4 linked regions of the Homo sapiens genome follow. The protein of the gene in region 4 purifies or fractionates together with the protein of the main gene of each other region. This does not show direct contact. Each region holds a gene or a part of one and is shown on either strand. Other genes may lie near its edges.

Evidence for each region. The genes of interacting proteins can lie anywhere in the genome.
Region 1: the proteins of ASB4 (region 4) and MEX3D purify together in Homo sapiens (co-immunoprecipitation; one large-scale study listed by IntAct). This does not show direct contact.
Region 2: the proteins of ASB4 (region 4) and HELLS purify together in Homo sapiens (co-immunoprecipitation; one large-scale study listed by IntAct). This does not show direct contact.
Region 3: the proteins of ASB4 (region 4) and IQSEC1 purify together in Homo sapiens (affinity purification with mass spectrometry; one large-scale study listed by BioGRID and IntAct). This does not show direct contact.

What each region holds. Positions count from the first base shown.
Region 1 is NC_000019.10:1,561,826-1,565,325, forward strand, and holds part of MEX3D (RNA-binding protein MEX3D), read right to left. Parts: intron 1-3,500.
Region 2 is NC_000010.11:94,594,288-94,597,787, reverse strand, and holds part of HELLS (lymphoid-specific helicase), read right to left. Parts: intron 3,094-3,500; coding exon 2,934-3,093; intron 929-2,933; coding exon 832-928; intron 754-831; coding exon 677-753; intron 1-676. UniProt on the Homo sapiens protein: Plays an essential role in normal development and survival. Involved in regulation of the expansion or survival of lymphoid cells. Required for de novo or maintenance DNA methylation. May control silencing of the imprinted CDKN1C gene through DNA methylation.
Region 3 is NC_000003.12:13,066,930-13,070,429, forward strand, and holds part of IQSEC1 (IQ motif and SEC7 domain-containing protein 1), read right to left. Parts: intron 1-3,500. UniProt on the Homo sapiens protein: Guanine nucleotide exchange factor for ARF1 and ARF6. Guanine nucleotide exchange factor activity is enhanced by lipid binding. Accelerates GTP binding by ARFs of all three classes.
Region 4 is NC_000007.14:95,527,443-95,530,942, forward strand, and holds part of ASB4 (ankyrin repeat and SOCS box protein 4), read left to right. Parts: intron 1-370; coding exon 371-861; coding exon of another isoform or gene 862-933; exon of another isoform or gene 934-1,359; intron 1,360-3,500.

The DNA of each region.
Region 1 (3,500 bases), on a different chromosome or scaffold from region 4:
CTGCAGAGACAGGGTCTTATTATGTTGCCCAGGCTGGTCTGGAACTCTTGGGCTCAGGTGATCCTCCCATCTCAGCCTCCCAAAGTGCTAGGATTACAGGTGTGAGCCACCATATCCGGCCTCTACAAAAAATTTTTAAAAATTAGCCAGGTGTGGCCGGGCACGGTGGCTCACACCTGTAATCCCAGCACTTTGGGAGGCCAAAATGGGTGGATCACGAGGTCAGGAGATCAAGACCATCCTAGCTAACACGGTGAAACCCCGTCTCTACTAAAAATACAAAAAATTAGCCGGGTGTGGTGGTGGGCGCCTGTAGTCCCAGCTACTTGGGAGGCTGAGGCAGAAGAATGGCGTGAACCTGGGAGATGGAGGTTGCAGTGAGCTGAGATCGCGCCACTGCACTCTAGCCTGGGCGACAGAGTGAGACTCCGTCTCAAAAAAAAAAAAAAATTAGCCAGGTGTGGACCGGGCACAGTGGATCACGAGGTCAGGAGTTCGAGACCAGACTGACCAACATGGTGAAACCCCATCTCCACTAAAAATACAAAAATTAGCCGGGCGTGGTGGCGGGCGCCTGTAATCCCAGTTACTCGGGAGGCTGAGGCAGGAGAATCGCTTGAACCCGGGAGGCAGAGCTTGCAGTGAGCCGAGATTGCACCACTGCACTCCAGCCTGGGCGACAGAGTGAGACTCCGCCTCAAAAGAAAAGAAAAGAAAAGAAAATTAGCTGGGTGTGTTGGTGCGCACCTGTGGTCCCAGCTACTTGGGAGGCAGAGGTGGGAGGATCGTCTGAGCCCAGGAGGTTGAGGCTGCAGTGAGCTACAATCACACCACTGCACTCAGGACAGAGCAACAGAACCAGACCCTGTCTCAAAAACAACAAAACAAAACAACAACAACAAGAAACCGCTAGGCGTGGTGACTCACACCTGTAATCCCAGCACTTTGGGAGGTGGAGGCAGGCGGATGACCTGAGGTCAGGAGTTCGAGACCGGCCTGGCCAACATGGCGAAACCCCGTCTCTACTAAAAATACAAAAATGAGCCTGGCGTGGTGGTGGCAGATACCTGTAATCCCAGCTACTCGGGAGGCTGAGGTGAAAGAACTGCTTGAACCTGGGAGGTGGAGGCTGCAGTGAGCCGAGACTGAGCCACTGTACTCCAGCCTGGGCGACAAGAGCAAGACCCTGTCTCAAAATGAAAAGAAAAAAACCTCTCGGGGAATGAAGGGAACATGTACACTGTACTAACGCCAGAACTCTCAGTTGGGTCTGCAGTGTGGAGGTTTCCTAGCAGAGCCTTTCTTCCTAGGGCTCTGCAGTGTATGGACAGGAAAACCATGGCATGGTCCCCACCAACACCCCAGCACTGTCCCCAGCTGTCGGGAAAACCTGGGGCCTGCGGGGATGGGAGGAGAAGAGGAGCCTCTGGGGCTGCAGCCAGGAACAAGGGACAGGAGGGGAGACAGTGAGCCAGGGGTCGCCCCCAGCTGAGGGGAACAACCTAAAATCACTAGCCTTAGCCTGTGCCGACAGCAGAGAGAGCGAGCCCTGAGCAGCTTCCAGTCCAGGCCCTGCCTTCAACATCACTCACTCATTCATTCATTCATTAGCCACAGAACACCTTCTGTGTACAGGCCCTGGCAAGACACTGAAGACCCAACCATGACCAAGCACCTGCCCTGGTTCCTGTCCCTGGGAACATGCAGGGGGAGAGGCTGCCACGGAGCACAGATTCACCCAGGGTGCCTGGCAAGCGGGGTGAGAAAGGAGGGTACATGTTGGGGTCTCAGCAGGAGCAGGGCCGGAGGTCCCCTAGAGCACCTTTGCTGGCCGGCTGGAGGGAGACGCCTGTGCTTTTGGGTCTCCACTTTGCCTGTCTCCCAGACAGGGCTGCCTCCCCTCACCCCCAGCCCTCAAGCTTTGGAATCTGAAATTTTCTTTGCTGACCCACCAGAGAAACTGGGTTTGAATCCCAGCCCATGATTTTTGTTTTGTTTTGGAGACAGGGTCTTGCTTTGTTGCCTAGACTGGAGAGCGGTGACAAGATCATAGCTCACTGCAGCCTCGACCGCCCAGGCTCAAGTAATCCTCCTGCCTCAGCCTCCAGAGTAGCTGGGGCTGCAGGAGTGTGCCACCATGCCTAATTTTTGTATTTTTTTTTTTGTAGAGACAGGGTTTCGCCATGTTGGCCGGGCTGGTCTCGATTCCTAGGCTCGAGGGATCCTCCTGCCTCAGCCTCTCTGAGTGCTGCTATCCCCTCAGTTTTTACCTATTCTTTACCTCTTGCAGCCTCTGCCTCCCCATCTGTGACCTGGGAGCTGCAGGACCTTTCCTGGGGCACATTATGGGCCTCAGTGAGATGGGGCAGGTCAAGTCTGGCATAGGCTTAGCACACAGTAGACCCTCAATAAAGATCTAGCCAATGGCCAGGCGCAGTGGCTCACACCTGTAGTCCCAGCACTCTGGGAGGCTGAGGTGGGTGGATCACCTGAGGTCAGGAGTGTGAGACCAGCCTGGCCAACATGGCGAAACCCCGTCTCTACTGAAAATACAAAAACCAGCTGGGCATAGTGGCACGTGCCTGTAATCCCACATACTAGGGGGGCTGAGGCAGGAGGATCGCTTGAACCTGGGAGGTGGAGCTTGCAGTGAACCGGGATCGTGCCATTGCACTCCAGCCTGGGCAACAGAGCGAGACTCCATCCCAAAAAAAAAAAAAAAAAAAGATATAGCAAATGAATGAACTGGAGCCTCCAGCAGATGGGTGGGAACTCAGAGGGTTTGAATGACCACAGTCTGCCCAGAAAGCACTCGGACCCCCTCTAGGATCAAGAGAACTGAAGCTCAGAGAACAGCACGTAGCTACTGGGGAGAGGGCTGGTGCCAGGCCTGTGTGACTCTTGTCTAGGTGGGGAGGCCGGACAGGTGCACCCTTCCTGGCCTCCAGGGAAGGGGTAACCTTGGAGCTTGGGTTTGACAGAGAAGCATGAGAAGTTCAGAGAGCCCCAGGGTGGAGAGGAAGGTGAGTAAAGGGGCAGGGCCGGGGCACAAAGGACATTGAAAGGTATGCTTGAGAACGGGGTGGGTGGGAGAAGCTGGGAGCCACAGATGGTTCTACAGTGTGGAAGAAGTACAGACTACCGAAGCTGTGGAAGACGTAAGGACTACTGAAGCTGCCAACCTGTCCTGGCATCCACAGTTGCATCCCTGGCAACGCGCACTCCACTTATGGGGTGGCCACTGTGTGTGACCTGGAGCTGGGATTAAAACCAGCAACTTGGGTCCAGGCATAGTGGCTCACACCTGTAGGAACCCCAGCACTTTGGGTGGCTGAGGATCGCTTGAGGCCAGGAGTTCAAGACCAGCCTGAGCAACAGAGCAAGACCCTGTCTCTACAAGAAAAACTTTATAATAAAAACAAATAAATAAAACTGGCCGTGCGCAGTGGCTCACGCCTGTAATCTCAGCACTTTGGGAGGTGGAGGTGGGCGGATCACTT
Region 2 (3,500 bases), on a different chromosome or scaffold from region 4:
GCTGGGGTGGGCACAACACCTGAAATCAGGAGTTCAAGACCAGCCTGGCCAACATGGCGAAACCCTGTCTCTACTAAAGATACAAAAATTAGCCAGGTGTGGTGGCAGGCGACTGTAATACTAGCTACTAGGGAGGCTGAGGCAGGAGAATCCCTTGAACCCAGGAGGCTGAGGTTGCAGTGAGCTGAGATCGTGTCAGCGCACTCCAGCCTGGGCGACAGGGCAAGACTCTGTCTCCAAAAAAATAAAATAAAATAAAATAAATCATCGTGTTAAGTAAAGGATGAAGGCTGACAAGACACTTTATAACATTATCTTGATTAATCTTAGCTCACTGGAAATAAGAAATCCAGATACGATGTGCCTCCTGGTATGACGAAAAATATGAGAACAAAGCACTGGTATTCTTAACTAAGACAGGAACTTGAATATATTCATTTACAAGTGTTATTTACCAGTTTACAGAAAATATCTGAATTATGGAAGAAGTTAAAGATAATGACATTTATGGGCAAAATGTCATGTCTGAGATTTGATTTTAATACTCTAAGAAGAAAAATGACAATAAAACAAGATTGGATACATGTGGCTGAATGAATTGCACAAGGGGTTCATTACATTATGCTAATTAAGTGTATGTTTCGAAGCTTCCATTAAAAAAAAGCATAATACTTACCAATAAGATCACTTCGATCTAACAACAACTCTAGATCTTTATCACTAATGACCTTCTCTCTTGATCCTTTTATTTCCCTATAGAAAACAAAATATTCAAGTCTATGTGAATAATTCAAAGCTACAAATTAAATCTTTCTAAAATTAAAAACTCACCTTTCATAATCTCTAGATTTTAATAATTCCATTAATTCCTTAGGATCTAAGAAATTCTTAGACAGATTTAATCCAGACTGACCACCTTTGAAATGATCTAAAAAAAATGAGAAATTAAAAACATTAAAATTCCTTTTAAAACTACAATACAACATATTACAAACCAATCACAATGGCTTGCATTAAGAAGGACGGCAAAAAAAAGTGTTGATAAAAAATAAAAGCAAATGAAGCTCTCAGGCTTCGCTGGTAGGACTGGAAAATGATATGTCCACTTTGGAAAAGGCTGGTAGTTTCCAGTAGTTAAACACGCACCCTCCCTAAGATCAAGGACCAAAAAATGCATTATGTCCACAAAGACTTGTACAGGACCAACTTATTCATAATAACCAGAATCTAGAAATAATTTAAATGTCGACCAACAGGAGAATGGAAAAAACAAACTATTCACCAATTAAAAGAAAAAAATTCTACTAAAAACAACACAGATGACTCTGTGTTGAAAAAATATATTCAACAAAATAGCTAAACAGAAAAAAGACTCATCAGTGTGACAAAAATCAGAATACTGGATGCTTCCTAGTGATGGTAAGGGGAGCATAGGAATTACTGGAAAGGGTGAACAAAGAAAATTTCTTGGATGATGAAAATGCTACCTTGATCTCGATGATAGTTACATAGGAGTACATAAATCTGGTCAAACTTCATTAACCTGTACATTTAAGATCTGTGCATTTTGCTGTATGTATGTAATAACTCAACTGAAAAATGTCAGCATTTAAAAAAATCCCTTCAAAATTTTCTACAAAATTAATCTACTAAAAAATCGAAAATAGGGCTGAGCACAGTGGCTCACACCTATAAGCCCAACACTTGAAGAGGCTAAGGCAGGAGGATCACTTGAGTCCAGGTGTTCGAGAACAACCTGGGTAAAAAAGTTAAATGGTCTCTTAAAAAAAAATTATGCTTTTTCCCCAATGCAAGTTCCAATTACAATCTAAATGTTTCACCAAATTAATTTTGTCTAAACCTTAATACACTCTTACCTCAAAACCCAGAGAAAGTATTTACAAGTGGAAAAGGAGTATAAAATAAATTATTAGTGATTTCCAACATTACTTTTCACATTAACATTATCATGTTCCCATTTCTCTAGGGCTTGATGATTTACATAAATGATTTTCAACATTTCTTCAGGTAGCTATCAAGCCATTTATTCAAAGAAAATTTTATGGTGAATGGATAGAAGTATAACTTCTCTAAGGAATCTCAGGAACAAAACTTTTTCACCTATGTCAGTTCCCCACCTCCTCAGAATTTTTTCTAGATTAAAAAGCATTGTTGAGACCCATCTGGTTATGATAAGGAAATGAAAAAGGAAAAAAAAGTGTCCAAAACTATAAAAAGGGCATTCTGCAGTGAAATATTCTGTGAAACAGTGGGTTCAATAAATAAATAGATTTTTTATAACACTTAAATACACTTAATATTTTAATACATGGAACTTGCAAAATATTTATCTTAAAACTTTTAGCAAGCCAATCTCTTATCAGGAACATGTAGTTATCCTTGACCCCTTTTCTCTGCCCATCTGCTCTTCATCTACATATCTACATACTCGCTAACATTCTTTCTTTTATGTCTATGGTGACCAACTTAGTTTAGGCTCCCAAATTCCCCACTGCTTATTTAAATCCTGTCATATCAGGCTGTTAATATTTTTTTTTTTGAGACAGAGTCTTGTTCTGTTACCCAGGCTAGAGTGCAGTGGCACGATCTCGGCTCACTGCAACCTCCTCCTCCCGGGTTCAAGCGATTCTCCTGCCTCAGCTTCCTGAGTAGCTGGGATTACAGGCGCCCGCCACCGAGCCCAGCTAATTTTTGTATTGTTAGTAGAGACGCGGTTTCACCATCTTGGCCAGCCTGGTCTCGAACTCCTGACCTCGTGATCCACTCACCTTGGCATCCCAAAGTACTAGGATTACAGGTGTGAGACACAGAACTCGGCCCAGGCTGTAATATTTTATAAACAAAATAAAAACAAAATCCACAACACACAATGCACAATTTAAACAATAAAGCACTACATAAGTGTTATTTACTTTTATGGATGATCAACTTTTCCAGTTTCCTTTTAGCAGCTGCTCTTTCCACAATTTTCTGATCGATAGTATTTGCTGTAACAAGGCGATAAACAACAACTGGCTTTGTCTGACCAATTCTATGACATCTATCCTGGGCCTGAAGATCCGACTGGGGGTTCTTAAAGTTAAAAAGAAAAATAATATTTAACGGTATTAGGTTAAAATTAACATAAACTCATGTGGATAAAGTCAACATGAATGATCTAGCCAGGAACTTTTAAATAGTGGTGTCTTAATTTAAACTTCCAGAGTGGCTTCATAGACAAAATTATCATTCCACAGATCCTTGACAATATTAACAAAAAAGTTTAAATACCCTAAAGAAAACATTTCAGGATGGGCACGATGACTCACTCCTATAATCTCAGCATTTTGGGAAGCCAAGGCAGGAGGATCATATGAGGATACAAGACCAGCGTGGGCAAACAGTGAGACGTGGTCTCACTAATTTTTACATTTTTTGTGGGCATGGTAGCACACCCATAGACCCAGCTACTTGAGAGAATGAGGTGGGAGGATCACTTG
Region 3 (3,500 bases), on a different chromosome or scaffold from region 4:
TGTGAATGAGCCAGCATGCCTGGAGCTGCTGTGCCTGGCAGACACCACTCCTCCCACTCCCAGTCCCCTGTGTGTCGCAGCATAACCAGGAACTTTCCAGATGAGGTCAGAGGCCCAGAGAGGGCAAGCAGCCTGCCCAGGGTCACATAGTGAGGCAGGGACAGAGCTGGAGTGGAGCCTCCTTGTCCTGCTCTGTAAGGCCCCAGGTGGGCCAGGGCCTCAGAGACCAAGGGGCAGGATATTTTCATCCACTCTGCCTGCAGGGAGCCTCCTGGGGGTAAGAGTGAGATTTGAGAGAACAGGAGCCATCCAACAGGCTGGAAAGAGCGGGAAGGGCAGACGGGGGCTGTGTCGTCAGTAGGCTTTTGGGGGAAAGCAGCAGGCTCTAAGGTAAGCCTGGGAGCAGCTTAGCCAGCACCCAGGAGCAACGCCTCCTAAGCCCCCACTGGTGGTGACAAAACTGGTCTGGTCCACAGGCATTGGGTGGGGGGCTCCCAGCCACTGTGGGACAAGTACCCTCAGCACCCAGGACAAGCAGGCTGGGGGCAGCCATGCCACAGTGGCAGTGACCAACACATTCCAGGTAGTGCATGCAGTGGGGAAGGGGTGGGGAGGGACAGAGCCTTGCGGCCAAGAGATCTGGAACCTGCTCAGGGTAAGGCGTCAGGTCCCCCAACACCTGGGCCCCCTGACCACCCTCCTTCCCTTCCTCATCCCATCTCTGTGCACTGGGTGCCCACTGGCCCCACCCACAAGGGCACACAGATCTGGCTGGGGAGGAGCAGGGTCTGGAGTCAGGCAGACTCACTGGCTGTGACCCTGAGCAAGGCACTTCCCTGGAAAACAGGATGGCACACAACCACCCTGCCAGAGTTGTGGGATTCAACAAGATAAGGCACTTTTGTTGTTATTCTTAAAGACCAAGTGAGTCAGTGCAAGGAGGCAGGCCAGGGCCCTGAGGAGATGGTGCCAGGTCCTTTAGGGGCACAGGGGGCCTTGGGGGGCTTCAACAAAGGGCCTCCAGGGAGGGACAAGGATGGCGTGACACTTGTTGAGCTTGGGGCCCAGCCTGCTTGCTGGCCCGCAGGCAAACCCTGGAAGGGGAGTATCAGCCCCACCACATAGAGCAGGAGGCTTAGGCCCAGTGCCTGTGCTTGGGGCACTTGGGAAAAGATGCTGACCATGGGCTGACCAAGGCCCAGCAGGGTCCTGCCCCGGGGCTGGGGCCAATCCAGGCCTTACGCTTCCTCTGAGGCCCAGGGAGGATGTGGATGTCGGACCTGTCCTTCACGGATCCTTTGGTGGAAGATGGTGGCAGGTGGGTCAGAGGTAGGTGCTTGCCTAAGCAGACGCTACTTGTTGCCCTGCCTGTCCAGCAACTACCAGAAAAGTCTGTTCCTCTCAGTCTCTAAAATTCACCCCAGACAGGGTCTCTAAGTCCCAACATCATGCCAGGCCATGCCAGCTTTGGGTATACAACGGGGAGCAGGCCTGGGCCCTGGCCTTGCAAAGGGGCAGAGGCAGTGGCCAGGCCTCTGAATTTTCAGGCCCCAGGCTCATGACACCCCCTCATGGTTGGGAGGCCCCAATGCAGTTCCCCAACCTCTTTAACCCCCAGTCTTTTCTTCATATCTTTAGCTTCCAGCATGACGATGTGACTCTTTACTCCAGGGCCTCCATGAACAGCCCCAGCCCCTTTACCTCTCTTCTTGGTCCACTCTGCTCCAGCAACACCATCCTCCCTCTGTGGCCCAATCCTGTCAAGCATGCCCTCACCAGGGCCTCTGCACTTGCTGTCCCCTGCACCCGGGGCCCCCACTCTTCTCCTGGATAGTTCCTCCTAATCATTTAGATTTCTGTTCAAAGGTCACCTCCTCCAGGAAGCCCTCCTCACTTCCTGAGTGGCCACACAGTTCACTCAATCCATTCCCATTGGGCTCTCTATCTTCTTCATTTCTCTGTGTCCTTCTCCCCTGCAGTATCCCCTGAGAGCAGCACCCTCTCAGTGGTTCCCAGCACTGAGCTGGACATACAGCAGGTGCACCATGAACACTAGCTGAAGGCAGGGAAGTGAAGGCCCAGGCCTGGTTATGCGGCCTTGGCTGCATATCCCAGTCTTTCTGAGTTATAACCAGGACCTGCCCAGTGGCTTCCTGGGGCTGTAAAGGGTGGATAGATGCTACAGCATTCTTGGAAAATAGCCCAGTGCTGTGTGGGTCATTCATAATAACCATTTTTAATAGTGATCACTGCATGGCAAGAAAGGCTACCGGTCATCACACGTGCTTGAGTGAAGACTGGGCCTCCGGTTCCCTCCCTGCATCTCTCTCGGTGGGCTGGGGCTGCTCTTCCCTGGCATCCAGCCCAGGCCCACTGTCCAGCAGATGCTGATAACTGTGCCTGCAGAACTGACCCAGCCAAGGTGATAATGGTGAAGGCTCAATGCACAAGTTTCTTGGAGGTGTGTGTGTGTGTGGAATGTTCCAGGCCCAGTCCCACCAGTGTCCCTTCTTCTGTCTAGGGGAGACCCACCAGGGCTTCGCTTCCTTCATGAAGGCCCCACTGCAAGCAGCAGGTCAGGGCATCCCACCAGAGGGAGACCACTGCCTCCTGCGGGGGCCGGCAGGTCATCATGTCCCCCAAACAGAAGGAAGAGAGGGGTCGGGACAGTTCCAGGCAGTGAATGAATGATTGAACAGGCATGGGTAGGCGAGTGCTCCACTGGCCTGGCCAAGCAGCCCACATCTCACACACCACAAACTCCTCACAGCCTCACTTCCTGTGTTCAAGTGACAGGATGTGACATGCCCATGAGGACAGAGGGGCCCCTTGCAGAGATGATGAAAAGGATGCTGTAGTTACAGAATTGAGGGCCATCCTTCATTCAGACACCATTCATGAAGCTGCCAGTACAGCAATGACCTCAGGTGTTAGCAAGTTTGATTCAGGGTCTGATTCTTGGAAGCCTCCTGATGTTCCCCCATTGGGTTAAGAAATCTTCTCCTGCTTTTGTTGTCATCCTTTATCCCATCCAGTGTGCCACCTTCACGATGGACTGAGCCCTGACCGGGACAGAGTCTCGATTCCATAAAGCTCCCTTGGGTGCACACCAGGGGCCCAGAGAGTGGAAGTGGCGAAAATGGAGGCTAGGGAGTGAGGACAGTGGGGTGGGGGTGGGGGCCCGCCGGCAGGGCTCCACTAGGCTGAGGATAGCCTGGCTGTGCCATGCACAGGGCCGCTGGAGCAAGTCTGTCCCGATTTGACATGTGGCATGCTGGGGAAGGGACACCACTGCCAAATGTACGGCAGGAAACAGCTGTGTGACCCCAGTCAAGTTCCTTCCCCTCTCTGAGCCTCAGTTTCCTCTTCTGTAAAACGGGATCGACAGTATCACATTTTACAGCAGTTGGTGAGACCCCATGAGGCAACTAAGCATGAGAACGCTTTGCAATCAAGTTGGGCAGCTCTGATAGTGGCTACAGTGCAACTGTTGGGAAAGT
Region 4 (3,500 bases):
TAATGATATTAGCAAATATCATTGTTATGTTGATTAAGAAGATTTAGTTGTAGAAATCTCTTGGTATTTCCAAATCCACCTGGGAGTAAGAAGTGAAATTCAGCAACGCTCCAGCATTCTGGCACAAATCCTTCCTTCTCCTCCCCTGGGTACCTTTGCTGGTTGTCCAGGAGATGGCACTGTTGCTTCAAGGGAATGGCTTCCACGAGGCCCAGGAAGAGAGCCTGGGGGCAAAGGGGTTGAGGGTTGGGGATAATATACGGCAGTCAGAAGTTAAAAGAGAAGCAGTGAGAAAAGTCTTGTTTAATGAACCTTAGGAATAATGACAAAACATGTTTAAATAATTGTCTTCCTCAATTTCCCTTTATAGGGGCGAATGTGAACATGAAGACCAACAACCAAGATGAGGAGACGCCCTTGCACACGGCTGCCCACTTCGGCCTTTCGGAGCTGGTGGCCTTCTACGTGGAACACGGGGCCATAGTGGACAGCGTGAATGCCCACATGGAGACCCCCCTGGCCATCGCCGCCTACTGGGCCCTCCGCTTTAAGGAGCAGGAGTACAGCACGGAGCACCACCTGGTCTGCCGCATGCTGCTTGACTACAAAGCCGAAGTCAATGCCCGAGATGACGACTTTAAATCTCCCCTCCACAAGGCAGCCTGGAACTGTGACCACGTGCTCATGCACATGATGCTGGAAGCTGGCGCCGAAGCCAATCTCATGGATATCAACGGCTGTGCTGCCATCCAGTACGTGCTGAAGGTCACCTCCGTGCGCCCTGCTGCCCAGCCTGAGATCTGCTACCAGCTCCTGTTGAACCATGGGGCTGCCCGAATATACCCTCCACAGTTCCATAAGGTGAGGCTCTGCCCAGTGGTCAGCAGGTTGAGGAAGATTCAAATGGCAGCCTTGTCTGAAATCTCCAAGTAACTCAAGCTTGCTTGAGGCTTGAGTCCTGGGCTAACTACCTCTGATCCTCTTTGACCTTCCATTACATACCTAATCCTAGCTGTCTCCTCATCTCATCCTAGTCTAGGTTTGCTTGAAATTGGGTGTGAGAGCTAGAATGAGAAAAAGAGTAGCAAATAATTTGTTTTGCCTTGTGTGAACACCAGTGCACTGGTGGCTTCCTGAGGGACTGAGGTAAGTCTGCCAGAAAGGTGAATAGTGTTAGACAGGCATACATTTGCCATCTTTTAAACAGAATGACTGATCTAAAGATGACTCAGCCTGCTTTGAAATTAGCTTGTAGCCATGAAAGGGCCACCCGATTTTCCAGTTTAATGAAAGCTAACGTTTATTAAGTACTAAAATTATATTTATTATGTATAATAAATAAGCACACTGTTATAAGCATTTTGTATGTCTTCATTTAATTCTTACAACAATCATACGAGGTATATATTATTATTGTCCCTATTTGACAGAGGAGGAAACTGAGGCACAGTTAAGTAGCTTACCTGAGCTCCCACAGTGCCAGTGCCAGGATTCAACCTTAGATACTTTGGTTCCAGCATCTACTCTTATGATATCACACTGCACGGTTTTTCTTAACAACATTCATAATCTCAAACAGGCTGGTAGGGACCAGTTGCTACCAGTATTGATATGACTAAGACATGGGACGTATCCTCAAGAAGCTTAGAATCTAGCAGATGAGACAAGCAAATAAAGGGGTAATTTTAATATGCTGTGGTAAATGACAAGGTAGAAGAATAATGAGTGCTACAGAAATATGGAAGAGAGTGAATTTTGCATAGTTTTATAGCTAGTAATTAATTTGGAGGCCAAAATGCATTTTACCTGAAAATAAATCAAATAATACTATACTTAGGTTTCCCCCTTGCTCTAAAAATTTAATTAACAACAAGAAGAGTTTGAAGTATACAACAACTGACTAATTAGGCCACAGAAAGCAAAGTAACAGATGTTTTTCTGAATTCACAGCTTAAGTTCTACGTCTTACCTGGGTAAAATGTCAGGGACTTGTCTGAAGTCCTGCAGTGTGAGGCTTAGTTAGAAGAAAAGTTCTACTAGAGAATTTAAGGGTAGTGCCTTCAGTCAGGGCAGATTCCAGATGGACAAACCAGAGAACTTTCAAATGAAGATTTGATGGGTTCAGCAATCCTGTGATCTCAATAGGAATTTTCTCTTGGTTATCAGGATGCTAATGGAAGATTAACTAATTCTTTTTTAAAAAATTATATGTAAAGCCCAGAATGTCATGAATTTTCCAAAAGTTTTTTAGGGAACTACAAATGATTAAGATGAGGAATAGAATAAGAATAATGTTACAGTAACTGTCCTGTGTTGAGCTCTAAATAGGTTTTATACAGACTATTTCATTTTATTTTTATAATGGACTCTGAGGTGGGCACTGGCATTACTCACATTTAAAAGGTGACTAAGCTAAAGCTAATAGTGTTAATATATTTTCATAAAGTCACACAGAGTAAGTGTCAAGTTCACTCATTTGTTTATTTAACAAATATTTACTTAACACCTCCGAAGTGTCAGGTACTGTTCTATTTGCTGGAGGTAGAGCAATGAACCAAAGGCCTTCATGAAAGATACTTTCTAGTGGGAGACAGGAAACAAACAAAACAACAACCAAATAAATATACTCTGATATGTTAGGTGCTATGGAGAAAAAGCAGGGCAAAAAAAAAAAAAAAGAGAATGCCAGATTATGTGTGCTACTTTAAGTTGATTAGAAAAAATAAGGATGTGGGGGGCTGGGTGCAGTGGCTCACCCCTGTAATCCTAGCACTTTGGGAGGCTGAGGCGGGCGGATTGCTTGAGTTCAGGAGTTCAAGGACAGACAGCCTGGGCAACACGGTGAAACCCTGTCTCTAATAAAATACAAAAAATTAGCTGGGTGTTGTGGCGTGCGCCTGTAGTCCCAGCTACTTGGGAGGCTGAGGCAGGAGAATGGCTTGAACCCGGGAGGCAGAGGTTGCAGTGAGCCGAGATTGTGCCACTGCACTTCACCCTGGGTGACAGAGCGAGACTCTGTCTCCAAAAGAAAAAATAAGGATGTGGAGGAACAAGCCATGCAAATACCTGATGGGGAGGTGGGGAGAGCATTCCAGGCCTAAGGAAAAGCAGGTGCAAGGGTCCTGAGGTAGGAGAGGGCTAAGCATGTTTGAGGGAGAGCAAGGAAGCCTCAGTGGCTGAAGTGGAGTGAGCAAGGGGAAGATAAATCCAAGAGGTATATATGTGGGTTGTTTGCAGACCATATATGTCGCCTTGTAAGCTGTGGGAATGTTCTTGGTGTTATACTCTGCATGGGAGAGGAAGTCACTGAAAGATTTTGAGTTGAGAAAAATAAAAGTCTGATTTATATTCTAAAATGGTCCTTTTGACTGCCTTTCAGAGAATAACTCTGAGTGGGGGGCTGGCAAATTTGCAATAATTTAGATGAGAGATGAGGGTAACTTAGATTCACAGTGGAATAGTGAAGGTGGTGAGAATCATGGACTTTGGGGTCAAACTTG